Homo sapiens: one gene and its partners. The protein of the gene in region 1 interacts with the protein of each later gene in a pairwise test. Each region holds a gene or a part of one and is shown on either strand. Other genes may lie near its edges.

What was found.
Region 2: the proteins of NYAP2 (region 1) and MORN4 interact in binary tests that used the Homo sapiens proteins (3 or more experiments, as listed by UniProt).
Region 3: the proteins of NYAP2 (region 1) and AGFG1 interact in binary tests that used the Homo sapiens proteins (3 or more experiments, as listed by UniProt).

Annotation. Positions count from the first base shown.
Region 1 is NC_000002.12:225,392,161-225,402,709, reverse strand, and holds the start of NYAP2 (neuronal tyrosine-phosphorylated phosphoinositide-3-kinase adapter 2), read right to left. Parts: upstream 3,001-10,549; 5' UTR 2,455-3,000; intron 2,287-2,454; exon of another isoform or gene 2,150-2,286; 5' UTR 1,667-2,149; intron 1-1,666.
Region 2 is NC_000010.11:97,629,258-97,640,090, reverse strand, and holds the start of MORN4 (MORN repeat-containing protein 4), read left to right. Parts: upstream 1-6,590; 5' UTR 6,591-6,744; intron 6,745-10,833. UniProt on the Homo sapiens protein: Plays a role in promoting axonal degeneration following neuronal injury by toxic insult or trauma.
Region 3 is NC_000002.12:227,529,418-227,539,647, reverse strand, and holds part of AGFG1 (arf-GAP domain and FG repeat-containing protein 1), read right to left. Parts: intron 8,558-10,230; coding exon 8,438-8,557; intron 7,511-8,437; coding exon of another isoform or gene 7,439-7,510; intron 6,100-7,438; coding exon 5,890-6,099; intron 4,804-5,889; coding exon 4,623-4,803; intron 3,024-4,622; coding exon 2,944-3,023; intron 2,748-2,943; coding exon 2,655-2,747; intron 1-2,654. UniProt on the Homo sapiens protein: Required for vesicle docking or fusion during acrosome biogenesis. May play a role in RNA trafficking or localization.

The DNA of each region.
Region 1 (10,549 bases):
AAGAAAGCTTGCTAAAGTGACTACAAAGACACTGATTGCTTTTTTCTCAGAAAGCAGATTACTTTGCAGTGAGTTTTTCTCCACTATCTCTCTTCCCAAAATGAGTAAGATAGGCATAAATCGTGTTAATGCAGTAGCATCATGAATTGGTATCTCCCCCTCATCTTCCAGGTTGTCATGGTGCTGTTTGCCCATGGTGTAAAGAGATTGTACATTTCCATTAATATTGGAGACTCATGCAAAATGCCAGTGGCTGAGATACTTTTTGGAGGCTTGGGCCAAATGGTTCCAGATGCTTACAAGGCATTATTTGCAAAGTAGATGTAGTCAGTCTAATAAATTGCTGACTGGAGCTACAGTGGGAACCATCTAATTGAATTGGGAGTCTATAATTTATTTATTTTTTTAAACAATAACCAACCTTCTTGTGTCTAGGATTTTTACACTTCTCTTTCTAAACTTGACAGATGCTTCAAGTCCTCAGGCTTCTCCACTGTCCCTTGTGCAGTTGTAATATTTTCCTCTGGTCTGTTTCCACTAATTCTCTAAACTGTCTATGTCCTTCACATAGTCCCTTTCTTTGCTGAGTTGGCTCATGTATGTTGCACTTTCCATAGGAAAACAAAATAATTTCTGCATTTGTGGACCACATTTTCTCATTAATTTGTGTAATTAGTGCTTGACAATATATAAAATAAATGAGAACATTGTCTAAAATGTGAAGAATTAGGAAGAGAGTTAATTTTCACTCTTTCTCTATATTTGTTATTCCACACTACTTGGTTATAAATGCTTGGATGTTAAAATGACTAAAACTACATCATGTAAGCTTTTCAGAATTTCATTATTTTTCGGCTATATTTAGAAAAAAAAATCCAATTCTATGGTACCAAAAGAACTTTAGTATTTCCCAATGATAGTGAAAAATATTATTTTATGTAATAGTTTTTCCAGATATGAAATACTCACATGTCTTGTATTTAAAATATTGCTGAGTAGTTGGAAAAATTAGGATGGAGACACCCCAACAAAATAAGAACATGTCCCAAGTAAAACAAGTCCACCTAAAGTTTTACAGAAAATATTTATTGTGATGAGACTAATAAAATCTTTCTGACATTGAATAGTATTAAAAAATGTTTCTCAAAGAGGTTTATGTCTAATCAGTCAGGAAGAAGCAGTGTCGGCTTTGCTGTTTGTCTGGTAGTTTTGAATTTTGGGGGATACTGTGTCTTTTCTCCTGAGAATGTAAAATTGGGCTCTCACTGCTGACATAAATGTGCTAAGAGACAGTTGTAAAATATTTATGGTATGGAATAGCGGATAAATAGCTAGCATGCACAACTTGAATGCCAATTAATACCCTGGAAAACATTTTCAAAGCTTTAATAATTCAACATGGCTTATTTTACTAATGAAAATCTAGTTTAACCATTTCCATGGTAATGTAACTAAGTGGGTAAGGGAGTAAAAATAGCCTCAGGCTCACTAAAGCCCTGGATGCCTTCACTGTGGCTTTATTTCTGCTCCACCTAATAAGGCATGCAAACTTCAGCATTAAGTATCCCTAACTAAAATCCATTCCATTTTATCACCAGATTGCTTGATCTATTCAGTGCTGGATTCGATTAGCATGCTTAGAGAATCTGAAAAATGAGATACATACCAAAATTTAAGTCCCCAGGGAGAGCTAAGTGCAATAACCAGAAGGTGACTTGTGTCTGTCAGAGCCCTCTCTCACGGTTGATCTCAGGGCAGTTCTGTAGGAGTAATCCAGCACCATAAGAAATAGACTTGTAGTTCAGCTCAGTGTTTCTTCAATTAAAGTGCATTGTGTCTGGATGGGAAAAGTGTCGACTCCCAGATTCTTCATCACTAGATCAGAGCATTCTCGATGTCCTTCCTATCAGATAAAATGGCCTTTAAAGTTTGCTAGGAAGATGCAGTGGCGGAAGACAGGTGCTTGCTTCCTTAAATCGACATTCGGAGAAAAGAGGGCATAGCTAATGGGTGGGGATGAACACACAGCCCCTCTCCTTCCAGGTCCAGCAGGGAAGAAATTGAATGATTTTACCCACTTTGCTACACAGATGATTACAGGACCAGAAGCAATCACCAAGCTGGCTAATGTACCTCATTTGATTATATTCTGCGAAGACAAAAATAAATGAAAACAAAAAATCAGAAACATCCTTTCTAAATGTCTCCTTTCAGCCAAAAAGATGCTCTTTCTCATTGCCACTTACATACAGAAGGTTTGGAGCAGCCCAGCTTGTGGCATAGTCCCTCCCCCGTGACAACCAGCTCTCTCTCTCTCATTCTCTCTCCCTCCACTCCCTCCCTCCCTCCCTGCCCCTGACTCCCTCCCTTCCTGCTTCTCTTTCTCCTCTCCAGCTGCCTTAGTCTGTTGAAGCTGCTGCTGATTAATCAGGGATTCTGAAACAAAGAACCTACCTTCTGAAATAAGCAGTAATCTTTCTTCTCTGTTTCTGCAATCCGTCTGCATTGAACGGCAAGGCTGCCAGCGTTCTAGCACCTTGGATAGTTCCTGCTCACTAGGCCCATTGGAAAAGGGAGAAGCAACTGAAGAAATTGCAAGAAACCGGAAAGCGGCATCGTTCTACTTTGGATTTCGGCTCCCTGGGGGCTCCCATCCTCATTAAAGGCCTCACATCTAGGCAACAGAACCTCTCTCTTTTATCTAACTGAGCTGAAGTCTGATTAGTAAATAATAAAAGGAAAAGAGGGTAAAGAAACACCCTTCATTTATATTCACTATAGCACTAATTCAGTCTTTATGGAGAGGAAAAATATAAATCCATTGAAAACAAATGTTCTTACTACAGAGAATGGTTAAGTTATAAGCATTTCACCCCTGGCGTGGCTAATGAAAATGAACAACAACTTAAATGGAACATCTAGATCTCAGTTTGATACCCTTATTTGATATCAATTTTGCCTCCACCCTCCCTGCACAGCCGAGCCATGCACACAATTACTGCTGACGTACTTCAGGCTGCTGCTTGGGGAGAGAGGGGAGGAGCCTTTTAACCTCATCAAAACAGCTTCATGCCACCTGCTCCCATGGCATGAGAACAAAACTAGTCCACTTAGAAAGAATATGCACAGCACACACGTGTGTGGAACAAAGGTCTTACTCGGACTGCACATTTTTTTAACTAAAATAAGATGCAAAATAATTATGATATGTATGTCATTAATTCCTATAGACTCATTGTTAAAATTAAAGTCATTCTATTTCTGATATTTCCCAAAGACTCTCCTCATTCTGTTCTTAATACTCTACTGAATATATACATATATATCACATTATATACCACAACTTATATATGTGTGTTTGTGTGTATTTGTATTTATTAAGCTCAAAGTTTTTCTCATACTGGCTCCTCCTCAGTAAAAACTAAAATGTACATGTTTTAATCTATTAATTTTGCACTATGATAAAAGGAATAATATATAATATGTTTCTGATGGATATGAGCTTAAAAAGCAATTTTGATGGGAGGGGATGTGCTTATTACTTGATAGTGACCTATAGATTTTTCCCCTCACATTCTTTTTCAGTAACTCACTGTAAATGACCTTCACTTGCAGGTTGGTTTTCCCAAGAGTGTTTTTTAACGTCTATATTCATAACCAAAGTCTTAGAAAATAGTTTTCTGAATTTAGTTTTTAATGCATTGACAGACCACAAAAATAAACAAGTTCACCTGTCTAATTCTTAAATGTCACCTGAGACTGTGCTGTAATTTTCTTAAATTATATTTCTTTAACTTGTAAGTATCTGGGGAAAAATAAAATCAACACATTACATTACTATAAAGCTTTTCTATTTTACATGTCCTGAAGTGCATTCCTGAAGCTCATCACTTATTTCTTGGTCTTTGTGTATCTAGCTTTTGGTTAGAACAGGACATCTGTTTAATTTTAAGAAGGATTCTGCAAGATTAGATAGATGAAAAGGAGGAGAAATACAAACGGGGAAGAGAAGAGGCCAGACCTCTCTCATATTCTCTTCCCCCTATCCCAATGCTCTCCCTTTCCCTCTCTCTCTCTCTCTCTCTGCCTTATGAAGGTTCTAAATACTTAGCACATTGCTGAAAAGTGCCTCAAGCACCACTTATAAACTAGTAACAGCCACCACACTGTGATCAAGAGGTTTACTAATGTGCCATTATTTTGGTAGTGAAGTGTTCTCATAGATGTTGTCTTTCAGCACATGACCAAAGGTGGAAAAAGTTCTTTACAAAAAAAAAATTATTGACAGACATTTTAGAAAACGGAAACACTTTATCATGACTGATAATTTTGCCAGTCTGGGGGTCTATATTTTGAACTATGGAGAGCTTGAATAAGCTCTAGTGTAAAGCCCATTTCTATATGTAAGAAAAATACTACCAAGATAAGTAAACAGACTTACTTGTTTCTGACTTACTTAATTGCCTCATTAGGATTAAGACCCAAGGTCCCTGGGCTGACTGCAGGTCTCCTCATCTTTGGCCAGTACAGTGGTTCTCAGTCCCCTTGATTTCATGCACCAAAATAATCCAAACAAAGTGAGGAGAGGCTGACATACAGTTGCCAAGCATAAAAAATGAAGAATCTGCCATTTCCTCACCACAAAAATTCAAAAAGTAAAAGGAATCTTTATATTAGAAGAATAGAGAAAGCATATTTATAACAATAGATGGTCTTTTAAGTTTCATATATTCAACTTTAGGAAAATATATCTTTTTCTTTCTTTCCTTCCTTCCTTCCTCCCTCTCCTCCCTCCCCTTTCCTTCCTTGTTTTGTTTCTTCTTTCTTTCCTTCATTCCTTGCTTCATCCCTCCCTCCCTTTCTCCCTTCCTTCTTTCCTTCCTCTTTTCCTTCTTTACTTCCTTCCTTCCTTCCTACTTGCCTGCCTCCCTGCCTTTTTCTTTTTCTTTCTTTTTCTCTTTATATTACAGAATAGGGCTTGAGAATCATCACATTTTACCAATCCCATTTTCTCAATCCCACACTTTCCTCATTCTAGGTGTCAATGTCACTGACAGGGCAATATATTCTCTGGAGACATATTAGTGTATAGGAGTTTATAGAACCTTTGAGGATCGTGCTGAGAAGGACCCCAGAACTACTTTAGGTCTCACTGAATGAAACAGCAAAGCATCTTTACTCTTGCAAATCATCTTAGAGCCAAATGCAGAACGCACCTCTACTCATTTCAATAGTATCTGGAGAAAAGTGCGTTGGACAAAATTTAAGTTAAAAATCCTCATATCGGGAATAAAGGTATAGAGATATTTAAAAAGCTCAAATTATACTCATGTATTGGTTTATTTCTTGTGCATCTTTATAAAATACATGGATGTTTCTATTCTATTTCTACTCTATTGAATAGACATCTTATTGATGTCAATAAGAAACAAGTCATTGAGATACCTGATGACTTGATATTTCTTTTAAAGTTCTTTAGTCAGGGTAGAGTTTAGCTCTTTTGGTTACACTGTATTAATAGAGTTTGATGCTTTGGGGGTTAAATAGGTCCCTTCAGTGAACTTGGATAGACCAGACGAGTCAGCGCCCTGAAAATGCTTCTTATTCTATACATCAGCCAGATGGTGGAAAGTGCTTGTTGTATAAAAGTGACGTAAATGAGAAAAGTGAGAATTGAAATAGAATAATTTAGTTACCTAAATTTTAAAGGGTTTATTCAAATACATGAAGTGAGGATGAACTCTCTGAAGTCATATCAAAATTTACTACAAAGCCTTTCTAGTTTTTTTTTTTTTTCCATGATCTGTACTCTTTCTATCATTCTTTTCACATTTAGCTTAGGAAGGTGACCCCTCTGTTAAAATGAAATTATTCCACTAAGGAAAAAGCTAATCTCCTTCCCATCCAATCAGGATTTCTAACCCTTCTGGTAACAGTGTGAAATGAAAGTCTTGGTAGAATGAAAACCATATGCTCCTCATGATTTTTGCCTATAACAATGTAGATGTCGACAGAAGTTGCACATATGACTTAGGGGTCGTGGGGCAGCAAATGGTGATATGGGTGCTCCAAGATCCAGCATACTCAGTAGCTAAAACAGAAAGAAAAAGTAAAAGATTTATGGTCTAATAATACACACAAAAAACTACTTTTACAGTGCCAAGGGGGAAAACTGACAATAAATGAAATATTCCCCTGGCAAGAGACTTAGGAATAGATCCAAACATCCCTCCATTGTTTTGTCCAACAGATATTTTCCAGTAAAGATTTCAGAAATACCATCAATGTATTCATCGCTATACTAAAAATGATAAAAATATTTCTAAACAAGGATCCATATATTCTAGTGAATCACACACCCACACTCCAACCAACCATCTCTCTTCTTTGCATGAACAATATCTATACTTTTCAAAAGTCAAGTATGTCTTACTCTCATAGTTTGTCCTAATTTACCACATTCAAACTGGATGCTTGCTCTCTGTATTATGAAATATCCAGTATAATTAAAAATAAAATCATGAATTTTTTATACTCTACCAAATATTCCTATTTCATTGTTCAAATGTTTTTGCCTAAGAGTCCTTAAGAGTGGAGCCCTTCCTTTCTGTTCGCATGGCCCCAGCTTACTGATTGCATCTAGCCAGTGGTAGGGATTTATTGAATGAATGCATGACTACATATCTCATCTGGTGACATATTCTGCACAAGTAGAAAATTCAAATGTATCCATATAATGAACATGAGATTGTCTTTTTTTAAAATAAAAGTATAAATGGAAATTTAAATATACAAGTAACCAAACTAAACTCCAAGTAAGTGAGGAAGAAAAATATTTCCAAAGGGACTCCATAGTTTTTCTAACTAAAAATGCAAAATAACCAGTTTGAAACTTACTAGAAATAATAAAATTGCTCCATAGGAAGACCAACTGAATATATGAACATAAGGATCATATTTAGAGAAAACAGTAAGATTCTTCTAAGATACTGTTTTAGTCAACTCAGGCTTTGAAAACAAGATACAATCGACTGAGTGGCTTAAATAACAGAATTTTATTTTTCACAGTTCTGGAGCTTGGATACTCCAAGATCAAGGTGCTGGCAGATTTGGCTTCTGGTCAGGGATTCTTTGCTGGCTTGCAAATTGTACCTTCTGGCTGTGTGTCCTCACATGGGAGGGAGGGAGGGAAGGAGGGAGGGGGAGAGAGACAGAGAGAGAGAAGAGAGAGAAGAGAGAGTAGAGAGACAGAGAGACTCTTCCTCTCTTTACAAGGACACTAATCCCATGACAGGGGCCCCACTCTTTTGACCTCTTCTAAACTGTATTCCCTCCCAAAGGCCCCACCTCCGAATACCATCACGCTGGGGAGTAGAGCTCCAGTGTATGGATTTTGGGACAGACACAAAGATTCAATTCAAAACAGAGACATAAAAAAGATATGGGAAATTATAGGAATTCCTTGTTCTTGAATAGGAAGAATAAATTTAATAAATAATTACTTCTTACTAAATTCACTAGAGTGAATGAAATTCCAATTTAAATAAAACTGTTTGGTAGGCCTTGAAAAGCTATTGGCAGAGATGTGCTTGACTAAATATTAAAACATCCTGCAAAGCTTTTTTGATTTTATTGTAGTATGGCACAAGACTTGATTGTGAATCTATAGAAGAGGTTAGAAAGTGCAGGGAAAATATATACAACTGTAGATATTTAGCATATAAATATGTCATTGCATATCAATAAATAATAAAATTGAAAAACAGAGAAATGTACACATACACAATGAATTTTCACAGTTCCTTACATAAAAATAAATCTAGACACTTGCAACACAAAATGTGGTCTAAGAACCTACAGCACCAGCTCATTAAATACGCAATTTGGGTCTTTCCCCAAAATGCCTGTCTTAGTCTGTTCAGGCTGCTATAACAAAATGTCATAGACTAGGTGGCTTAAATAACAGAAATTAATTTATCACAGTTCTAGAGAGTGGAGGTCTGAGTTCAGAATGCCAACATGCTTGGGTTCTGGTGAAGACTCTCTTTCTGGCGTCCTCATATGGGGTGGGGGAGAGAGAGAGAGAGAGAGAGAGAGAGAGAGAGAGAGAGAGAGAGAGCTAGCTCTCATAAAGTCACTAATCCCATCATAAGGGCTCTACCCCATGACCTAATTACCTCCTCAAGGTCCCATCTCCAAATACCATCACTTGAGAATTTAGGGTTTCAACATATGAATTTGGGGGGACACAAACATGTAGTCCATAACATTATTCGAGTAAGGATCTGCATTATAACATATGCCTAGGTGATTGGGGGTACATATTAACATTTGAGAAAAACTGTTCAAATAAATTTATCTGATGATGAAAACGGTATATATCTGCACTGTCGAAAATAATAACCATCAGCCTGATGCAGTAGCGTGAACCTGTAGTCAGCCTACTTGGGAAGCTCAGGCAAGAGGATTGCTTGAGCCCAGGAATTCAAGGCCAGCCTGGGTAGCGTAAGGAGACCTAGTCCCTGAGAAAATAAAATATAATATAATAGCCACTAGCTACACGTGGCTATTGAGCACTTAAACTTTGGTTAATATGACCGAGGAACCACATTTTAGATTTTATTTTAATTAATTTAAATTTAACATGCACATGTAAATAATGGCTACCATATTGAACAATTTAGCTCCAGACATCTGAAACATTTGTATATAAAAACACTAATTTACTAAAAGAAACTTTAATATGATCTTAGAGTGGAGATGGCCCATCTAAAGATAACTAAAGACAAAGTTTGAAAAAACTAAGTGATAATAAAGAAAACTGAATACATAAAAGCGTAAAACATTTTTTAAAATTTATTTTTAACCTTTATTTTAGGTTCGTGGGTTCATGTGAAGGTTGATTATATTGGTAAACTCATGTCATGGGGGTTTGTTGTACAGATTATTTCATCACCCAGATATTAAGCCCAGTACCCAATAATTTTCTTGTGTTCATCTCCCTCAAGTAGACCCCAGTAACTGTCGTTCCCTTCTTTGTGTTCATGAGTCCTCATCATTTAGCTCCCACTTATAAGTGAGAACATGTGGTATTTGGCTTTCCGTTCCTCCATTAGTTCAACCACTGTGCAATGCAGTAGGGTGATTCCTCAAAGAGCTAAGAGCAGAGTTACCATTCGACCCAGCAGTCTCATTACTGGGTATATACTCCGAGGAATATAGATCATTCTACCGTAAAGATATATGCAAGTGAATGTCCATTGCATCACTATTCACAATAGCAAAGTCATGGAATCAACCTAAACACCCATCAACGACAGATTGGATAAAGAAAATGAGCTACATATACATCATGGAATACAATGCGACAACGAAAAATAATAAAATAATTTCTTTTGTGGGAACATGGATGGAGCTGGAGGCTATTATTCTTAACAATGTAAAACATTTAAGTAGGAAAAGATTATAAATAAAGTTAACAGTTACATATTTCTATATTTTATTATAAATAAACAAGAACTAAACACCATAGTACTAACAAGGACAAAGAAAAGGAATGGGTCAATCATAAATAAGAAATTGAAATGGCAAATACATACAAAAAATATGTTTAACCTTATAGTAATAAAATGAAAATTAAATCAAGAATGGCTCTTAGTTTTTCATAATAGCTCATGCTGGCATACATGTGGAGAAATGAATGGTTGTGTAAATGCACGCAACCAAAATGTGAGGAAATCTGATACAGTTTCAATTTTTTAACGTGCACAGCCTTTGAAACAATAATTTTACTTTCAGGACATGATAAGTGTGCCAGACTGTATATTTGAGACTATTCATGGTTTGGAATAGCAAAAATGTTAAAACTTCCTATATGTCTAAAAACAAGAGCTTGAAAGATAAGTTATTACATAACAATTAAAATTATAATATAAATCTATATTCATTTATGTGAATGTGGGTATTGTGAGGAGGGCAAGAGCATTAGCTCTGAGAAGGAATCACTGGGCTGGTGTACTGCTTACCCTGTAACCTAACTGTGTGACAATGGGAAAGATACATAATTTCTCGCTGCCTCAATTTCTTTATCTGAAAATGACAATAATGATAGTATAAACTCACACATTTATTTTGAAGATTAAATTAGTTATATGTAAAAGCCTATGTAAAATAACTACATTTAGAATTTAATAAGTATCAATAAATGCTAGCTGATCTTTAATTTTTATTTTTATTTTAAGTTCTGGGGTACATGTGCAGAATGCGCAGTTTTATTACACAGGTAAACATGTGGCATGGTGGTTTGCTGCACCTATCAACCCATCACCTAGGTATTAAGCTCAGCAAGAATTAGCTATTTTTCCTAATGCTCTCCCTACCCCCACCCCCTGACAGACCCCAGTGTCTATTGTTCCCCTCCCTGTGTCCATGTGTTCTCATTGTTCAGATCCCACTTACAAGTGAGAACATACAGTGCTTGGTTTTCTGTTCCTGTGTTAGTTTGCTGAGGATAATGGTTTCCAGCTCCATCCATGTCTCTGCAAAGGAC
Region 2 (10,833 bases), on another chromosome or scaffold:
GATCTGCCCACCTCGACCTCCCAAAGTGCTGGGATTACAGGTGTGAGCCACTGCGCTTGGCCTGGAAGTAGGTTTTTAAAGGAAAAGAGGCAGTTCCTAACTTGTTTACCAAGAATTTACATTAAAATAACAAGTTATAGATTGGCTATACATTGTACTTTGTATCCCAAATTCGTATCTCAGTTGACCTAACATACTTCCAATGTAGATGTAACAATGTCAGGTTACACTTCAAGTTCGCAGGAACTTGAAGGTAATGGGTGAAGTAGCCAGTCAGGATAAAATGTCTTAACAATTGCCTCCAGGTTTTCCTAGGAAGCCCTGAAGATTTCTTTTTAAAATATTATTATTATTTTTTTAGAGTTAGGTTATCTCTATGTTGCCTGGGCTGGTCTTGAACTCCTGGCCTCAGGCGATCCTCCTCCCTCAGTCTCCCAGAGTGCTGGGGGATTACAGGTGTGAACCACCCACAGTGCAGCCAAAAAATAAAAAATTTTTAAAAGAAAAAAACCCGCCAGGCACAGTGGCTCACGCCTGTAATCCCAGCACTTTGGGAGGCTGAGGCAGGCGGATCACCTGAGGTCGGGAGTTCAAGACCAGCCTGACCAACATGAAGAAACCCTGTCTCTACTAAAAATACAAAATTAGCCGGGCATGGTGGCACATGCCTATAATCTCAGCTACTCGGGAAGCTGAGGCAGGAGAATCGCTTGAACCCAGGAGGCAGAGGTTGCAGTGAGAAACTCTGTCAAGAAAGAAAGAAAAAGAGAGAAAGAGAAAGAAAGAAAGGGAGAGGGAGAGGGGCAGGAAGAAATAAAGAAAAGAAAGGGAAGGAAAGAAAGGAAAGAAAGAAAGAAAGAAACCATTGCCCCAGAGTGTGGGTGTGGAAGGCATGACTGAAGTCCCATACTCATGTCTTTGAGCCAATAGACTGTGCATACATCACACAGAGCTCAGACTGCTCTAAGCTATCTTTCCTTCTCAACCTTATAGGAATTCAAGGCCAGCCTGGGCAACATAGCAAGACTCCATCTATTTTTTAAAAATTAATTTTTTTAAGGAGTTCCTAGGAAAACCCAGGGGCAATTGTTAAGACATTTTATTCCTGACTCGCTGCCTCACCCATTATCTTCAAGTTCCTGTGAAGATACAAACTTGTGATACAAAGAATAATACATAGCCAATTAATATCTTACACTGTGCCTGGCCCAGCTGCTCAATGCTTATTTGTTAATTGAAGAAAAATATGGTCCCATGAGCCTAAGAAGTTCTTACCACGAGGTAAGAGTCCATTGCTTTTACTCACACTGTTAAATCTCAGTGTCTAGACACAGTAGGTGCTCAGTACATTATTATTCATGAGAAAGGGAAGGAAGATAGAGTCCCTGCCCTCAAGCTGAAGGCATGTGGCTTTCTGAGGCAGTAGGAGAAAAAAAAGCAAAATGAGCTCAAAACTCCGTAACAGTTCACCAATTAACTGAGGCAGGCTGCAGGCTCAGCAAAGGCTTTATTTTTTTTCTAATTTTTTTTTTCAACCAGAATGCTCAAGGATCAAGCAAAGGCTTTAAGTGGGTCATGTGCTATGAGCTGAGTCTTAAAGAAAGAGTAATTAGATTGCTGGAAAAAAAGGAGACAGGAAAAAAATGTTACACCAAGCAGGAGTTACCTGAGTAAAAGAGGAAGGCTAGGGCATATAGGGAACAGAGAGCAACCTTCTTGATTCGAGGGGAAGCAGAGTTAAACTGGGTTACCAAGGGCCTGGAAAGTAGAACAGAACGAGACCAGCCTGGGCAACATGGTGAAACCCCGTCTCTACTAAAAATACAAAAATTAGCCGGGCTTGGTGGCACATGCCTGTAATCCCAGCTACTTGGGAGGCTGAGGCAGGAGAATTGCTTGAACCTGGGAGAAGGAGGTTGCAGTGAGCAGAGATTGTGCCACTGCACTCCAGCCTGGAACAACAAGAGCGAAACTCCATCTGAAAAAATAATAATAATAATAAATTCATGGAATACTGTTTCAGTTAAAATTTATACAAACAAGCCAGGTACGATGGCTCACGCCTATAATCCTAGCACTCTGGGAGGCTGAGGCGGGTGGATCACCTGAGGTCAGGAGTTCAAGACCAGCCTGGCCAACATGGCGAAACCCTGTCTCTACTAAAAATACAAAAAAAAAAAAAAAATTAGCTGGGCTTGGTGGCACACGCCTATGATCCCAGCTATTTGGGAGGCTGAGGTGTGAGAATCGCTTGAACCTGGGAGGTGGAGGTTGCAGTGAGCTGAGATCGTACCCCTGCACTCCAGCCTAGGCGACAGAACAAGAATCCGTCTCAAAAAAAAATGTATGCAAACACTACCTTCAAAAGTGTAGAATGTACATCCAGGCTTGGTGGCTCACACCTGTAATCCTAGGGGAGACCAAGGCGGGTGGATCACAAGGTCAGGAGTTTGAGACCAGCCTGTCCAACATGGTGAAACCTCGTCTCTACTACAAAAAATTAGCCAGGCATGGTGGCAGGCGCCTGTAATCCCAGGTACTACGGAGGCTGGGGCAGGCGAGTCGCTTGAACCTGGGAGGTGGAGGTTGCAGTGAGCTGAGATCGTGCCATTGCACTCCAGCCTAGGCAACAGGGCCAGACTCCGTTTCAAAAAAAAAGTGTAAAATGTAATGGTTGGAAGCATGGGCTTGGAAATCAGAGACATTTGAGTTTGAATCCAGTCTCCATGATGATCAGTTGTTTTAGACAAGTTATATAACCTCTCTAAGCCTCAGTTCCTTAATCTATAAAATGGGAATAATCATCCCCATGATTACTGAATCAAGAATCAATATAATGTTATGTAAAGCACTTAGCATATGAAGCATGACTCTCTAATAGGAAAAATAAAAATAAAGCACTTAGCATAGTGTTTTGTACATAAAGAGCACTCAACATATGGTAGCTTTTTGAAAAAAAATCACTGCTGATGTTACTGTTGATGTTGTTTTTGTTTTTATGCTTAAAGTCACCAGCAGACTAGAGGTATGGGCTTTCACGAATCATGGCCAGTCACATAGTCACCAATATTTCATAATCATTCTTTCTTGAATCAAATTATTGCCACTGCTAACTAGAAATACCAAATTGAAAGCACTATTGTTTAATTATATGTATGGGAATGTCTTAAACATTTTTGGCCAGACAAACCATTCTAAACAAAAGTCGTACAGAAGGTTAAATTGCCCCTTTCAGTTATAATACATGCACTTCCTTTTCCTATCTAGACCTCAATAATCAACTGATGCCTGGCTCTTGTGGCCCAGGGTCTGTAGCCACATAGATAATCTTTTGGTATCATTCATCTCATTTAGCCCATAAGCTTCAAATTATGGTAAAGGAAAGGTCCCAGATTTAGAGTTCTCCCTGGAATTCTGAGTTTTTTCTCCACAGAAACCCCTCAGAGTCTTTTATTTTATCTAAAAAAATTTTTTGGCCAGGCACAGTGGCTCACGCCTGTAATCCCAGCACTTTGGGAGGCCGAAGCGGGTGGATCACGAGGTCAGGAGTTCGAGACCAGCCTGGTCAAGATGGTGAAACCCTGTCTCTACTAAAAATACAAAAATTAGCCGGCTCTGTCACTCAGGCTGGAGTGCAGTTGTGCAATCTCAGCTCACCGCAACCTCCGCCTCCCGGGTTCAAGCGATTCTCCTGCCTCAGCCTCCTGAGTAGCTGGGACTACAGGCGCGGGCCACCACATCCGGCTAATTTTTGTATTTTTCAGTAGAGACGGGGTTTCACCATGTTGGCCAGGATGGTCTCGATCTGTTGACCTCATGATCCGCCCACCTCGGCCTCCCAAAGTGCTGGGATTACAGGCATGAGCCACCACACCCGGCCTAGACATTGTTTTAAATGCATTACATGGATTAACTCATGGAACCAGCTTTATAGTATCCTGTGATGTTGGAAACCCAGACCCAGGGAGGTAAAGGTAATGTGCCCATGGTCATTCAGCTGGTAAATGGCAGAGCCGGATCCAAATCCAGGCAGACTGTTTCCATGCTCTTAACACTATGTTGATTCTTATTAAATATCCCTATGAAATATGTCTCATATTTACCCCCTTTCTTTCATCTCCACTGATGCTACATGAAACTTCCAGGATGTGTTAGTTGCATTATTACAATAACTTCTGAGTTTGTTACTTTGCTTCCAATCTCTCACTGGTCATCTCTGAGTGTCACTGTCAGATTAATTTTCATAAAATACTGCTTGTAGTGTGTCATTCCCCTGGCCAAGAAACTACATTTTATTTATTTATTTATTTATTTATTTATTTATTTATTTATTTATTTATGTTTTGAGACAGGGTCTCTGTTAACCAGGCTCAAGCAGTTCTCTTGCCTTAACCTCCCGAGTGCTGGCACCACAGGCACTTGTCACCACACTCAGCTAATTATAAAGGCCATAAGAGTAACAATCATGGCTTTTCAAGCCTGACAGAACCTAGCATCATGCTGTACTCACATTGTTTAAGAAATAAACATATGGATACACAGATTGATGTGAGTGGTATTTGGGAAGATTTGCTCCAATCTTGGCACTATATTTTATTTATTTATTTATTTATCTAGTGAACCAGAAATAAAATTATAAGCCCCCCAATCAAATGAATGGCCTCCTCTTCTGGGCCAAGGGCATTCCTAAATTAACCTGAAAAACTATTTGAGGCCATGATGAGAAGTGGGAGTCAGACATGCCTCATTATTTTCTCCTGCTTTTGGAATTCAGGACCAGCATTTAACATTAAAGCAGAGATCTTAAGGTTGACACAGCAGACTCTTTGTAGCAATGATACCAACATTGACAGATAGCAGGCCCCATCTGTCATGATAGCAGGCAAAGGTGTCTTTTATGGTGAAAATCTACATTCTGTAGAAAATCCCCTTCCCTTTCCAGGTCTTTTTCCTGATCCAGGGGAGAACTAACTAAGAGTCTGATACCTTTCTAAATCTGATAATAAACACTGGCCAGCCTTGGTGGCTCACACGTGTAATCCTAGCACTTTGGGAGGCAGAGATGGGAGGATCACTTGAGCCCAGGAGTTCAATACCAGCCTGGGCAACATGACAAAACACCATCTCTACAAAAAATACAAAAATAAGCCAGGCATAGTGGAATGAACCAGTAGTCTCAGCTACTTAGGAGGCTGAGGTGGGAGGATAACTTGAGCCTGGGAGGTCAAGGCTGCAGTAAGCCGTGATCCAGCTACTGCACTCCAGACTGGGTGACAGAGGGAGACCCTGTCTCAAAACAAAAAAAAAAATAAAGAAACATTTACAATCTATGCTCTCTGGAGCCTGCTACCTGTAGCCTTCTCTGCATAATAAAAACCTTGATTTCCACAATTCCTTGTGTGTGTGTGTGTGTGTGTGTGTGTGTGTGTGTGCGTGCATATCTTAGTAACAATTCCTTAACTTAACCCAGACATTCCCTTCTGTGGGTTCCAGGTCTTTAAACTCTTTCAACCAATTGTCAATCAGGACATCTTTGAATCCACCTACATCCTGGAACTTGCCACCCCCACCCCCACTTTCGGGACCAAGCCAATGTATATTTTACATGTATTGATTGATGTCTTACGTCTCCCTAAAATGTATAAAATCAAGTGGTGTCCCGACTATTTTGGACACACATTCTTAGGACCTTCTAAGGCTGTGTCACGGGCATGTCCTTAACATTGGCAAAATAAACTCCTAAATTGATTGAGACCTGTCTCAGATACTTTTTGGTTTGCAATTTATTTATTTGAGACAGGGTCTTGCTAGGTCGCCCAGGCTGGGGTACAGTGGCAGAATCATGGCTTATTGCAGCCTCAACCTCCTGGGCTCAAGGGATCCTCCCACCTCAGCCTCCTGAGTAGCTGTGACTACAGGCACCCACCACTAGGCTGGGTAATTTTTTTCTTCTGTAGATACGGAGTCTCCCTGCGTTGCCCAGGCTGATCTAGAACTCTTGGGCTCAAGCCTCCCGCACTCCTGAGCTCAAGCCGCGGCCTCCCGAAGTGCTGGGATTACAGATGTGAGCCACTGCGCCTGGCCAGGTACTATATTTTAAACAAAAAGGATCTAGATAATGACAAGGACAGCACAAATTCCTATAATGAATGCAAAAGTGTCTTGATATCACAATGTCTAGCACAGAGTTATTGGAGGCTATCCTGCCTAGCGCGTTACAATTTACAAAGCTGCCTCTCTGAAGCTGGATTTAGGATCTGCCTTAAACTCCGCGGCGGGGCCCTTGACAGCAGTGGGGACTGGAGCAAGATCAGAGCCGCTCGCGTTGATGGTCACTGTTGCTTCGGGCGCAGGTTTGGTTTTCTTTGGGGTTGCCATTTCAACTAGACGGCCTCTGGGTAGGCCAGATCTGGATCCTCTGTCTTTATCTGCGTTGCAGAGGTGGGACCACCCCTCTTTCACATAGTCAGCCCGGGTTCGCAAACACTCGGCCCCGCACAAAGATGGCGTGGAGCCGGGCTGGGCCAATGCGGAGTGGCGTTGCTCCCGGTTGCCTAGGTAACAGCCAATGGGCAGCGGGAATTGTACCCAGTGCGGTCGCCCAGGATGGCGGCGTCAAGTGGGGCAATCGCTGGTGGAGGTGGCGGAGAGCAAGGTGGCAGCCGGGAGCCCATCAGAGGAAAAGTCCGAGGCGCTGGAACCCTGCGTCCAGGCGTGACGGTCATCCCGAAAGGCCGGCCCCAGGTTGGCTGGAGGCGCAGGAGGGAGGGGGCCGGGAAAGAGTGTGATCGGTCAGGTGGGCACTGAGGAACGGAGCACGAGATGACCCGGCTCGGGGGCGCGGCTCCACCTCGGATACGCTGACCTGAGGGCGGTTGCCTGTGGGGGACCCAAACCTGAACCCTTTAGTCTCCACCGCGGGGGTCGAGGCCCGGGAGAGCTGACTGGACTGGGGTTAGCGAGCAGAGGGTGGAGGGTTGCATCAGGGGAATTGGCAGACCTGTGTGAGCGTTAGACCCTGCCGGGCGGGAGAGCGGGCCCGGATAGCAGGAAGGAACGCGCCTGGAAGGTGAAAATGGGGTGCGAGAAGGTGTTGCCTTGTTGTGGTCTAGGGCTTTGTTTTCCCTGAGCCCGCCTTTATCTCACTGGTGGAGAGAACTCCCACATATGGAAGCCTGGGGAATGGGATGCTTCATTTAGTTGATGGGTGGTATCCCTGCATTCTAGCATCTCTGAACTGCTTAGGTACCAGCAGGAATAACTGCTATATCGGAGTCCAGCCCTGGCATTCCCTTTCCCGTGAAATAGGATAGTATTCTGGCAGTATTACTCCCTAGTCCCAATCACCCCCAGGTCATCATCGCCTTTAAATAAAAAAAAAAAAAAATCTTTTTGGCGCCAGTATTTTCTTCCCACTTTCTTCAATCTAACCATCCCACAGTCTTCCCTAAACGAACCCTTCATATAGCAACGATACATTTCTTTACTTTTCACATGAGGAAAGAGGAGGTTAGACTTATAATGAAAAACAGTTATTTCGAGCTCCTTTTAAAACACTTAAAAAAAAATATTTAGGCCGGGCGCGGTGGCTCACGCCTGTAATCCCAACACTTTGGGAGGCCGAGGCGGGTGGATCACGAAGTCAGGAGTTCAAAACTAGCTTGGCCAAGATGGTGAAACCTCGTCTCTACTAAAAATACAAAAATTAGCCAAGCATGGTGGCACGTGCCTGTAATCCCAACTACCCAGGAGGCTGAGGCAGGAGAATTGCTTGAACCTGGGAGGCGGCGGTTGCAGTGAGCCAAGATCCTGCCACTGCACTCCAGCATGGGGGACAGAGCAAGACTCCGTCTCAAAAAAAAAAAAAAAAAAAAAAAAGGGGAGTATTATTTGACTTTTTGTTCTAGGTTCCTAACAAGGCTAATCTTTGTTCATCAAAGCCTTCATTTTCTTCTCTTTAGGATTCTAAAAGCTTATGAACTGCTTTCTTTATTACTGAAATAATTTGACAAGACTATTGTACCCTGGGAAGGGTGGTTCTGGGGGGACATGTGGGTAGTTAGGGTGGCTGCCTCCACCCAGTATTCTCTAACTGGATCTCCCCCACCGCCCCAACCTTTTGTTTTGTTTTGCTTTTCTTTTCTTTTTTTTGAGACAAGGTCTGGCTCTGTTGCCCAGGCTGGAGTACAGGTGTGGTGCAGTCACTGCTCACCCCGGCAGCCTCAAATTGTGGGCTCAAGCAATCCTCCTACCTCAGCCTCCTGAGTAGCTGGGACTACAGGCATGCACCACCACACCCAGCAAATTTTTGTATTGTTTTGTAGAGATGAGGTCTCACTACGTTTCCCAGCTTGGTATTGAACTCCTGGGCTCAAGCGATCCTCTTGCTTCAGCCTCCCAACGTGCTGGGATTACAGGAGTGAGCCATCATGCCTGGCCCTTTTTCCTCTTTATGTCAGTTTTTTTTTTTTTAATCCTCTTAAATTGGACACAGTTTACTGTGAATACAAAAATGTTGTTTAATACGTTGATTTCTTAAAATTAGAAAACGATAAAAAGAACGGAAACAAAAATTCTCGTTATTGCCTCAGAGTTCTGTTTGGAAATAAGAAAATAATAATAATTAAAAAGAAATGTCTGGGACAAAAGAAAATGAAGATACCAGGAATATGGTATATAGTGCAGACTAATAGTGTGTTGGTTTACAGGGACAGAATAGTAATTTTCTTTTATGTAAATGTTTGGACTGATCCTTTGCAACCCATCTATCAGGAGTGCAGAAAGGGTGAGTGTCTGTTTAGAAGTGTGAATCATCTTGGTTTGTGACTGGATTCCATGGGTGTATCTGTAGCCTAAACTCCTGAGCCATATATTCTCTTTAAAAATATGATTTGGATAACTGATAGAAATACTGATTTGCATCCCTTATTAAAGTATTGGGCCAGACATGGTGGCTCCCACCTGTAATCCTAGCACTTTGGAAGGCTGAAGCAGGCAGATCACTTGATCCCAGGAGTTCAAGACCAGCATGGGCAACGTGGTAAAACCCTGTCTCTACCAAAAAATGCAAAAATTAGCTGGGTGTCGTGGCATGCTCCTGTAGTCCCAGCTACTCAGGAGGCTAAGGTGGGAGGATGGCTTGGGCCCAGGAGGCAGAGGTTGCAGTGGCTGAGATGACGCCACTGCACTCCAGCTTGGATGACAGAGCCAGACTGCCTCAAAAAAAAAAAAGTATTGGGCTTTCAGTCTTCATCGGCACTGACTATACTTTGTTAAACTAGGTTTGTCTCAATGACCATGGTTACTGGTGAAATTCCTTTTTAGGTCAGTAGCTGTAAAGCTATTCATTAGCATGGTTAATTATAAAAGTCATAAAATCCAGACACTGTCCCAAATAGTGACAATATCAACTATTTGGGCACATGTGACAGTTTCTAGCCAAATGTATTCAACCATGGCCTGAGACTCATGGATTCTACACACATTCCCTTTCATTAGCACTTCTGACTGTGGTCTTGGCAATGGACATCATTTTGGCAAGCATTTGCTGAAGGGAATTTGCTATATGTGCCTAAGTCAAAATGGAATGGAAGTTTGTAGTATGTACTGTTGAAAACCAATGGGAGAGGATGGTGGGAGGGTTAGGTTGAAACATGGTATTCCAGTTATTATTGCTGTATAACAAAGTACCCCAGAATTTAGCAGCTTAAAACACCCATACTGTGGCCAGGCGCGGTGGCTCATGCCTGTAATCCCAGCACTTTGGGAGGTTGAGGAGGGCGGATCATGAGATCAGGAGATCAAGACCATCCTGGCTAACACAGTGAAACCTCATCTCTACTAAAAATACAAAAAATTAGCCGGGGCCGGGCACAGTGGCTCATGCCTGTAATCCCAGCACTTCGGGAGGCTGAGGCAGGCGGATCACAAGGTCAGGAGATCGAGACCATCCTGGCTAACATGGTGAAACCCCGTCTCCACTAAAAATACAAAAAAAAATTAGCTGGGCATGGTGGCGGGCGCCTGTAGTCCCAGCTACTGGGGAGGCTGAGGCAGGAGAATGGCGAGAACCTGGGAGGCAGAGCTTGCAGTAAGCTGAGATCGTGCCACTGAACTCCAGCCTGGGAGACAGCAAGACTCCGTCTCAAAAAAAAAAAAAAAAAAATTAGCTGGGCGTGGTGGCGAGCACCTGTAGTCCCAGCTACTCAGGAAGCTAAGGCAGGAGAATTGCTTGAACCCGGGAGGCGGAGCTTGCAGTGAGCCGAGATCACACCACTGTACTCCACCCAGCGTGACAAAGCGAGACTCTGTCTCAAAAAACAAAACAAACAAACAAAAAAAAAACACCCATATGATGCTCATGGATTCTGTGGGTGAGGGAATTTGGACCTGGCACCATGGGGAGGCCTCTCTCTGCTCCCTGATATGGGATGGAATGCAGGCTCAATGGCTGAGGGCTGGAATCATCTGAAGGCTCCTTCACTGATGCCTGGTACGTGGGATAGGATGATTCAAAGGTAAGGGCAGCCAACTGGAACACCAATATATGGCTTTTCTGTGTGGCTTGGCTTTCAGTGTTAGCCTCTGTGTAGTCAGGCTTTTTATGTGGTGGCTCGGGTCTCCAAGTGTGAGTGTATCAGTGACAAGATGGAAGTTGCATCACCTTTTATGATCTAACCTCAGAACACACCACCATTTTCTTTTGAGACAGAGTTTCACTCTTGTTGCCCAGGCTGGAGTGCAATGGCGCGATCTTGGCTCACTTCAACCTCCGCCTCCTGGGTTAAGCAATTCTCCTGCCTCAGCCTCCCAAGTAGCTGGGATTACAGGCAT
Region 3 (10,230 bases), 2.1 Mb from region 1:
TCAGCCTCCTGAGTAGCTAGGAAGGACTCCAGGTGTCTGCCACCATTTATTTTTTGTAGAAACGGGGTTCGCCATGTTGCCCAGGCTGCTCTCAAAACTCCTGGGCTTCAAGCAACCCACCTACCTCGGCATCCCAAAGTGCTAGGATCAAAGGGTACCTCAAAATATAATTTCACAGTGTTAACATGTGTTTTTTGTTTTTTTTGAGACAGAGTCTTGCTCTGTCGCCCAGGCTGGAGTCCAGTGGCATGATCTCAGCTCACTGCAAACTCCATTTCCCTGGTTCAAGCGATTCTCCTGCCTCAGCCTCCCAAGTAGCTGGGACTACAGGCACGTACCACCGCACCTGGCTAATTTTTGCATTTTTAGTAGAGACAGGGTCTTACCATGTTGGCCAGGCTGGTCTCAAACTCTTGGCCTCAGGTGATCCACCCGCCTTGGCCTCCCAAAGTGCTGGGATTACAGGCATGAGCCACTGTGCCTGGCCAGTGTTAATGTATTTGAAGGCAACAAAAAATTCTTAAATAATATTAACTTTGATGGTATAAAACACTGGAAATTCTTAAGCGTAGTGCATCTGTCGAAGTATTGTTTATATTTCAGCTTCAATAGAAACATATGCAGTTAATGCTTGTGATTTGGTCAATTCAATAATAATCTAATAAAGGTGACCAACGTGATAAATTCAAAATGACTTATAATGGAAAAAATGTATTACCTTGAAATAAACATTTGTGGACACTGTCGTTTTACCTTTCTAATAAATTTTTGTTACTTAATACTAGAATTATCTTATATCATCTGCACATACGTTGTACATTTTATATTATTTTATATCCTATGTAGAACTTCAACTTTTACAAAACTTGCATACTCTAAATAAAATAAGCAAAAAAAGGCCCTTAACTCTAATGATAGAACCAACTCAGAGGTACAATCATGAAAGGAAAATAATAGGTCTGATTTACTGAGCATATGCTGTAACGCAAAGACCATACAGGGTAAATGTGCATCATCTAATTTTACAACAAACCTGCCAGCAAGAGAATATTGTTCACATTCTATAGAGAGGGACAACATGAAGGCTCAGAGAAGTCAGGTCAACATGATTAGGCTCAGTCAAAACATAATTTGAGTTTCCATTCATCAGTTCTTAAGTGAAGTTATAATATCTATAAATATCTCAATAGCATCTTGTGAACAACTTTATCACAATAAATGTTTGAACATCCCCCTATCATTCTTACCCCATTCATTAAAAGAACAAAATTCAAAAGGCTTTCTTATGGTCAACCTGCAAGTAACTATAAATCAGAATTCGAACACAAGTTTGGCTGGCTGTACTCAAAATATGTTCAATTAACTTTTCTGGGCCTGTTCCCTCAGCTGTCACACAATTAAAATATTTATTTGATGACAGCTGAGTGGATTAAATGAGGCAATGTACAAAAACCCATTGTATCATGAGACATTTTACAAACTCAGTCCACAAAATCAAAACAGTATGCTAAGAAACAGAAACACTGCACATATCACACACCTGATAAATTGTACAAATGGAAATTTAAAACAATCATTCATTAGGTACACTTGAATTAAACTTTTTTTAAAGTTAAATTTTGTGTGAAATTCCAATACTTATCAAACATCTATTATGCTACTTACCAACAGAGTATAAGTGAAGACATTTATGTGAAAAGAAAATAGTTACAGCTCAAACTCCTAATACTGTGATTCTTAATCTTGTCAATGACAAAGAGATTTACTAAAAACTAGTAATTCTTAATGGTTTGATTAAAATGTTACAAGTACCTAATCTCTCAAGAGTTCATATCAACATTTGCTATAACTGGAGTTTAGGCTTTAGTTCTAAATTATTGTGACATATACACAAAAACAAAGCATACAAACTCTAGATTTAATGGATACCCAGCCATACCAAATGCACCTGCTGACATTCCAAGATACTGGCAAATATCTCTGGTGTTTAAGGTAATACGACAAAAATCAGAGGTATAACATGAGAAAGATGTGAATGGCTTACAGTATGAATCAAAAAATAAAATGGAGACAACAAAGAGAATTAAGGGAAAAAATTATCAAAAGAGAAAATATTCAGTATTATACCCACGACTGAATCAAGTTTCCACAACTTAAAAAATGTTAACACCTGAAAGAGATATTCACTAGAAAAAGACCTAATAATTAAGAATTCATGTAGTAAAGTCATCTGATGCAATCTCATAGGGAAAATAAAAACTTCTCATAAAATGGTTCCATTAAGACTGCATGAGTGACAACCAGTAATTCTGAAACCAGACCACCAAATACATCTAAATTGCTCTGTTCAAGTCCTATCTCTGTCATAAACGTTCTGTGGAGTCTCATCTCCATGTCTGGGCTTCCCTACCTGAAAAATGAAAGCTTTAACTGGAAAGGGCAGACACTAGATAATTTCTAAGGTCCCTCTCAACTGTTAAATTCCAGGATTTTATGAACTTTCAGCTAGAATTTGTCTTTATGGACAAACTCTTCTATCCATTGCCATTCACTTCACTAAGAAAGAGGCCCCATTTTCTGGTGTTCTTCACATGGTGTCTTTGTTGATAAATGTCTTCCCCAAAACTTACTGTTCCACTGTCTCTTTTTCTTACCTGTTGCTCCTCTGGCATTGGTCTGAAATGGGTTTGTAGAAGATGCCACAGAAGGACCAGCAGCAGCAACAAATGGATTTGTGGAAGGCGTAGCTTTAAAAAATTATAAAATACACTATAAAATCCTAATACATTTTGTATTTAAGATTTAAATTATTTCACTATATTTATCAAGACAGAAAACTCAAGGATTCTGATAACAAATCATTGCTTTGACTCCTAAGAAAATGCTACACAATATATATTTGGGTTCTTTGTAAAAACCAGTGTATATACCAGAAGCACATACCTCCAAATGGAGCAGGCACACTTGATGAAGCAGGCTGTGTCTGTGCAGAAGCAACCACTGGCACTGTTCCAAAAACATTGCTGAGAACAAATATTGAAAGAGTTCATTTTTTTTCTTAAAAAAAAAAGAAAGTAACGATTTACAGGGTAGCCATAAAATAATGAACATATCGTGTATCACAGCATCAGTATCAACACAAAGAAAATTAAGACATTTAAGTGTAAAGATGTAATAAAATAAACAATTGTTACTGCTTCATTAAGAATCATCATAAAAAAATAAAAAATACAAGTAAAACTGAATGTGTAGTGGGAAGGAATATGACTATTGTAACGACTAGTACAGTTTGGTGCCACTATCTTAATATTCATGTTAAAACACCAGCAAAAACCATTATTCTAAGCAAACTATATCACAAGGACAGAAAACCAAACACTGCATGTTTTCACTCATAGGTGTGAGTTGAACAACAAGAACAACACATGGACACAGGGTGGGAAACATCACACTTGGGGGCCTGTCGGGGGTGGGGGGCTGGGGGAGGGATAGCATTAGGAGAAATACCTAATGTAAATGATGAGTTGATGGGTGCAGCAAACCAACATGGCACATGTATACCTATGTAACAAACCTGCACGTTGTGCACATGTACCCTAGAACTTAAAGTATTAAAAAAAAATAAAAAGACACCAGCAAGTTTTACTTGCCATTGTTTTCACACCATCAATGCAAATATCAATTAATGAAAAGGTAAACAATCTCTCAGAATTATTATAAAGAAAGTTTTAACCTCACAGACCCCATGAAAGGGTCTCAGGTACCCCAAACATTCCATGGACCACAGTTTGTGAACCCCTGATGTACTGTAATGTAATATCAATAAATCATGTATTATATATAAAGTATGTTTCCAGACTTTATGTTTCCGGAAGTGTTACAATCCTAACATTTCTTTCTAGAAAAGATGCTAAAGGAAAATAAGCTACCAGGATAACTAAAGAAATTAGTAAATACAATCCACAGGATTGGAAAACAGAGATGAATAAAACATTGTTATAGGTAAATCTCTTGTATTTCTGAGACTATTTCCGCAACTCTAAAATAAAGACTAGAAAAGTTTTTTACAAGTGTAATGTCCTAAAATGTGTTAGACTTCCTACTGCCAAGAATTCTAACAGATATATATGAACATAACAGCAGATGTGCTTATTTGTAAATATGAGGATGACACTGAAGAGATACAGAATTGATTTTGGGCTTTGGTGCAAACACTTCTAAAAATCTGTATTTACAACTAAGCCTATAATATGGGACTTTCACTGTTTAATCATCATGACTAAAAACTATTTTTAAAGTATATTATTTGACTACTAAATGGATTCTCTGCTGAGTACAATCTGTAAGGAACTGTCCATTTTGAGATGTGTACATGCTCTCAAATACGGTTTAGTGTTCAAGGACAGAACATAACAAAACGTCTGATTCAATGAAAAGATAAAATTATGGCAATTATTCAAGGATTATATTTTAATTAGCATTTAAATTCAAATTCCTCAAATTTACAAAAATATCCAAGAATTTTAAAATTATACCTTGAAACAGTCATTTTTTAATTGATTATTCAAAGTTGGAAAAAAAAGATAAAACACAAAGCAGGAGGGCTAGCTAAGACAAGGTACCTGCTAGCATTACTTGTGGAAGTATACGCATTACTGGAGGTGGCTGCAGAACTGAAAACGCTGTCTAGTTCTGCCAGAGCTGCATACTTGTCTGAAGATGCACTTGACTGACTGGGAACTGAAACCACAGAACCAACAGGAGCTTTACCTGTGGTCCCAAAGCCACTTCCCTGATCACCACCTGGGAACGAACAAAATCAAGTTACACCAAAAATTTAAAGTTACACTTTCAACTTATCAACCACATTTGCCATGAAACACAGGTAAACTTAAAATGGATTTAGAGTTAAGCAGGATTCCAAATCATTAATCTAATAAATAACCTGGACCATACTGGACAGGATTAGTTGTTATACATACCACTGTGATAAAGACAGAATATGTCTCTTAACAAAAATTAACACTCTGTACCAAAAAAATTTGTCTGGATTATGCATAAGAAAGAAACTCTCAAGTGCTCTTACGTTAACATCTCCAAGACGGGTGGATCTTGTTCACATGAACATATAAATTCATATAATGCTAGACCTAATGTGAACAGTCTATCAATAGCATCATTTCCCCAGCATTCTCCACAAAAAAATTAGAGATGGTAATAACGGGAAACATTTATTGAGGACTTACTATGTGCTAGGCACTGTTCTATATGCCTTAACATGCAATAATACTTAGAACACAACTCCATGAGTTTAATGCTTAGAATTATCCTCATTTTGGAGAGGAGGAAAACAGGCCCAGAGATCAGAATGGAGAATTCCATTTAGCAACACACACCTGCTATTCACCAGTGCCACATGCATTTGTAGAGGCTACTAGCCTTAAGATAAAACTGGATACAAGACTATACTGTAAAATTCATGAATTTTTTTTTTTAAATATAAAAAACCCACCAAGATGTTAACGGAAAATTGTTCGAAGTAAATATATTACAGAAACCACCAAATAATCCTCCATTCAGCTCTGCCAATGGGGTTTCTTGGCTCTTTATAGCCAAAGAAAAGTAAAGCACGCCTTCTAGGACAAAATAAAATTTTTCTCAACTAGTAAGACTGAAAGTTTACAAATCAGTCCCTATGTCTTCAGTTTTGTAGTTGATATTTCAGGTCTAAAATGTGTCAAGTGAACATTTTACTCAAAATGACAGTGCAGACAAAATTTCTATACAACAACTGAGAAAAGTGTAGCATGTTCAGATTTTAATAAATACAACCAAATTAAGAGCACTGTTTAACACAAATTTGTATTTGTTTTGCTTAAAGCTTGATACCTTGCCCGGCACTGAAGATATTGTCTAAATTAGCAAGTGCTGCATATTTGTCTGCAGTCTGTAAACCAGCTTTGTTCGTTGAAACTTTACTAACAGCTGATGCTGTTTGATGACTCTGGGAAGTATTGAAGGTTCCAAAATCAGCACTGGAGGATTTGGGGAAGTTATCAAAATGAGCAAAATTAGCATTTACTGATGCAGCACTTCCACCTGTAACAGAATAAACAGAGCACTTGAAATTTCTAAGCTTTTCCTAGTACCCTCTCATAGACTGTATGATCATTTCTTCCTAAATTAAATGTCCTATAAGCAATCTTACAACATTAAAATCAATGACTGGCAATGGCTTTTGACTACAAGTGACGTTTTCCAATTTTGTAAAAGTAGATTTTTCAAAGGCCTTGGCAACAGGTAAAGTAACATGTTTCTGTGTATTACCTACCCTGGAATGAAGAATGTAATTCATGGAGGGGTATCTCCACACTACCTGGTTTGAGATTCAGTTACTTTCTAGTCCAAATATACTACAGCCTTTCACTAGTTCTCCCTGAACAGACTGCAAACAAGATGCAAAGTATCTTACTAGGAGGATTTCAAACTTTTGTGGCTCCATGACGAAACAGTTTAAACAATCCCAGGGGTAGCGATTAACAATGTGTAAAATGTGTTACGGTGATCCAAAATTCCTTAAAAGATGGTCGTTGACATTTATACTTACTTCACTTGAAGAGCTACTATTTAATTCCACATAATAGTTTAATGTGTATACAATATCAAGATGTCCACTGTAAAATCATGCCGTACCATATAGTTCAAGGCATTAAAATTACAGTACATAATACATTATAGCAATTTTTGACTTTATAAACCACAATTCACCTAATGGCCACTATTATATATATCCTGTTACATCTTTAAAATCTGTTCTCTATTATAGAGACCTCCTTAAAGTACTATCAAAAGACTAAAACCAGTATATTTCATTCTATGCTTTTGATCCTACATTTTTGGGATATTAGTTCTTTATTTCTAAACTTTAGTTTCAGAAATCAAAACAGTATATATACACAGTTATATATTAAAGTGATAGAAAAGACAACTACAGATAATTTTAAAACAGAATGCATGAACTTCTATTAAAAAAACACGAACACTTTCTATCAAGCAGGTTTTTATACATTCTAAAAAAAATATACACTGATCAAATTTCTTTCAAGAGTTAAATCATGGTGGTTTCAATTAAAGGTAAGTAATATATGTTTGTATGTAAAATATTGTGACCTGTTACAAGGAGCTGGCAAACAAAGTACATACTAAACTTTCAAAATTTATATAAAGAATATTATTTCAAATTATTATTAAACCAAGTAACTCTTTGATTGTCTACTATTGTGTTCTCTAACTCTGAGTTTAATAAATAGAGTTGGAAGAGATTTTTATGAAGGATTATCACTAAAGAATTATTAACAATCTATAACTGGAAAAACCCTTGAAGTATAGCAAAAATATACAAATTAGTATAAGATGCCTACTTGACAACAGAACTTACTGTGGGTAGCCTGAAGAGGAAAAGCTGAAGTAAATTCACCAAAACTGCAGCTAGATGAAAGCATTCTAAATGCTGGACAGCCAGAAATTATGTAAATGATGAAAGTTAAAGAAAAAACAAAAAAGAAAATTGAAAGAAAAGGCTTTAAGACAATACACAGAGTTAAAAGTTGAAAGAAAAGTAATCAGCCAAAAATCTAAATAAGGGTTCCATGAGTTTACGAAAACAGCACAATTTATGGAAAGAGTATTCAATGTTTAAACACCAATTCCTGCACAGAAAACTATTTCCAAGTTTGACTGAAGTGATCATTAATCTACTCTTGTCTAATAAACATATAAAAATTTTTCTCAGGCTTGTTGCCCCGAAAATTACTTACATTTTTAGCTCTACAGAAGCAACCAGCTTCCTTTATTAAGAGGTATAATGTCAGCCTAAATCAATGGATTCTATGAACCTTAAAAAACTTATAGTACTGGCTGGGCACAGTGGCTCACACCTGTAATCCCAGCACTGTGGGAGGTCAAGGCAGGAGGATAACTTGAGGCCAGGAGTTCAAGACCAGCCTGGGCAACATAGTGAGACCCAGCTGCTACCAAAAAAAAAAAAAAAATTTAGCTGGGAGTGGTGGCATGTGCCTGTATTCCATCCTGAGGCAGGAGGATTGCCAAAAAAAAAAAAAAAGAGACAGAGAGAGAGAAATACTTATAGTAGTGTCATGCCTCTGTCCTGTGTGCATGGTAGATATAAGGAAGATTCATGCGCAGGAAAAGGAGGAGAATGGATGTTGTCAAACAGACAATATACCAAATAATGCAGAAAAACAAATGAACATAGAAAAAAATAAAGAGTTCAGGTTTCCCCAGAGCTTTTGAAGATAGAACCATTTTAAAGTCAGATAATTACAGAATTTAAGTTTAGACTAATTTTTCAAAACTACATTTAGAGAGTTTTGTTTTGTAAAGTAAACATTTAAGCACAATGCTGGAGAAGCTCTACCTGTAGTTTGGGGCTGAAAAGGAGAGTGACTTGCTGTGGGGAAACCTCCAAAATTACTCGAACCACTAGACTGTCCAAATGCATCAAAGTTTGCAAAATCTGCATTTGCAGAATTCTGAGCTGTAAATGGTAAGGAACAACATATGTTAATGAATATGAAAACTATAAATGAAAATACATGACACATGAGTTTAAGAATTATATGAAAAGTTTCTATGTATCAAAACTCACTTTATAGAGAATTCACTTAGCAATCAGATTTTAAACCCTACCAGCATGTAACCCAATTACAGGTAATTTACTAAGGAGTAACCAAGAATTTCCAAAAACACTTTGTGCAATGATAAATTTGGACACAATACTCTGTATATGACCTCAAGCACAGTACTATAAAAGTGACTCTATTAACAAAGGAAACTATTTCAGAGTACTGAGTTACAGTACTGAGTTATAGGAAAGCAGACAAAGATGTAGAAAACATCCTGGAAAAATTCACTGATTAAAAATGGTAATCAACTATGTGAATCTGAATAATAACTGAAATACTTAAAATAATAATACAAAAATGGTTTAATTAATAGAGCTTTTTTTAAGTTTACAAATGTCTCACCATGGTCATATATAAAAATTTAAAAAAAGGACAAGATCACCAAATAAATTGAAGATATTCATATTCTATTAGAAGCCTGCAATTTTAAACTCATTAAAATTTAAGAAACAATGAATGCTAGCATAGAAATTATAGCATATAATTCAGAGCCCCAAACATTAATAGAATACCTATTAAATAGGCAAGACAGGACTTTGTAGTACTTGTATCCATTTTTACTTCTAGGTACTGATCTATTCACTATCTTCAACAATCGATTATAAGTGCTGCAGAATGAAACTTTGGAAAACACAACTTTGCAAATTCAACACTAATAAATTCAGTAATACAAAAATTACTGTCTGGACACTCAGGCAATCTCTGTACAAAGAAATCCAAGCTAAGCAGAATGTAACACAATGGTAAAGCTGTTTCTTGAATAATCGTATTTCAAAAAGTACAAAGGAGTCAACTTAGTGTGGAACTTAAGACCCCAAATTAATGAGCCTGAGTCTTGCTAATAGTTGTCATTCCTCTTCAAAGAAAAACACATATTCATGAGACAGGAAGATAGATCATAGGACGCAAACTAGCAGCCCTCAGCAAATTCATCTGACAGATATGCTTTGTTTCATCTGTATAGTATTTAACATTATTTCCCATGAATTCCCAACATTTAAAAAGAGGGCACTTCACAATAAACAAAAAGACTTCTAGCTTCTCTTATTAAAAAAAAAAAATCAATATATCTAGTATCCTAAACCCCTATTTCCATGTGGTAACAGATTAGAACATCCCCTTTAAAAAGGGCACCATAGTTCTTTAAACACAACATTATACTACTCATTTGTGTTACCTGAGTTGCAAGGCAGTTGGGTTTAGATCCTACAGTATAGAATGTGACAAAAATCAATTACAGTTTACAGTGCACAGGTTTTGGGATATGATGTTTATCATCAGGCAAAATAACCAAATTCAGTAGGTGAATTTTATTTCTAGCTTCATGCGTCTTTCTGTAGAAGATGACTTTTTCTGAACCCAATAATGACCCCACCCAGCAACACACATCCACAAATACTATACCTCAGCCTGAATGCTCACATGAAGACTAAAGGCTTCTGGCTTTTAAGTCACACTAAATTATCTACAAAAGAAAAAGTTTCCCTACAAAACAATGCTAATGAACCAGACTGGCATATGTGAA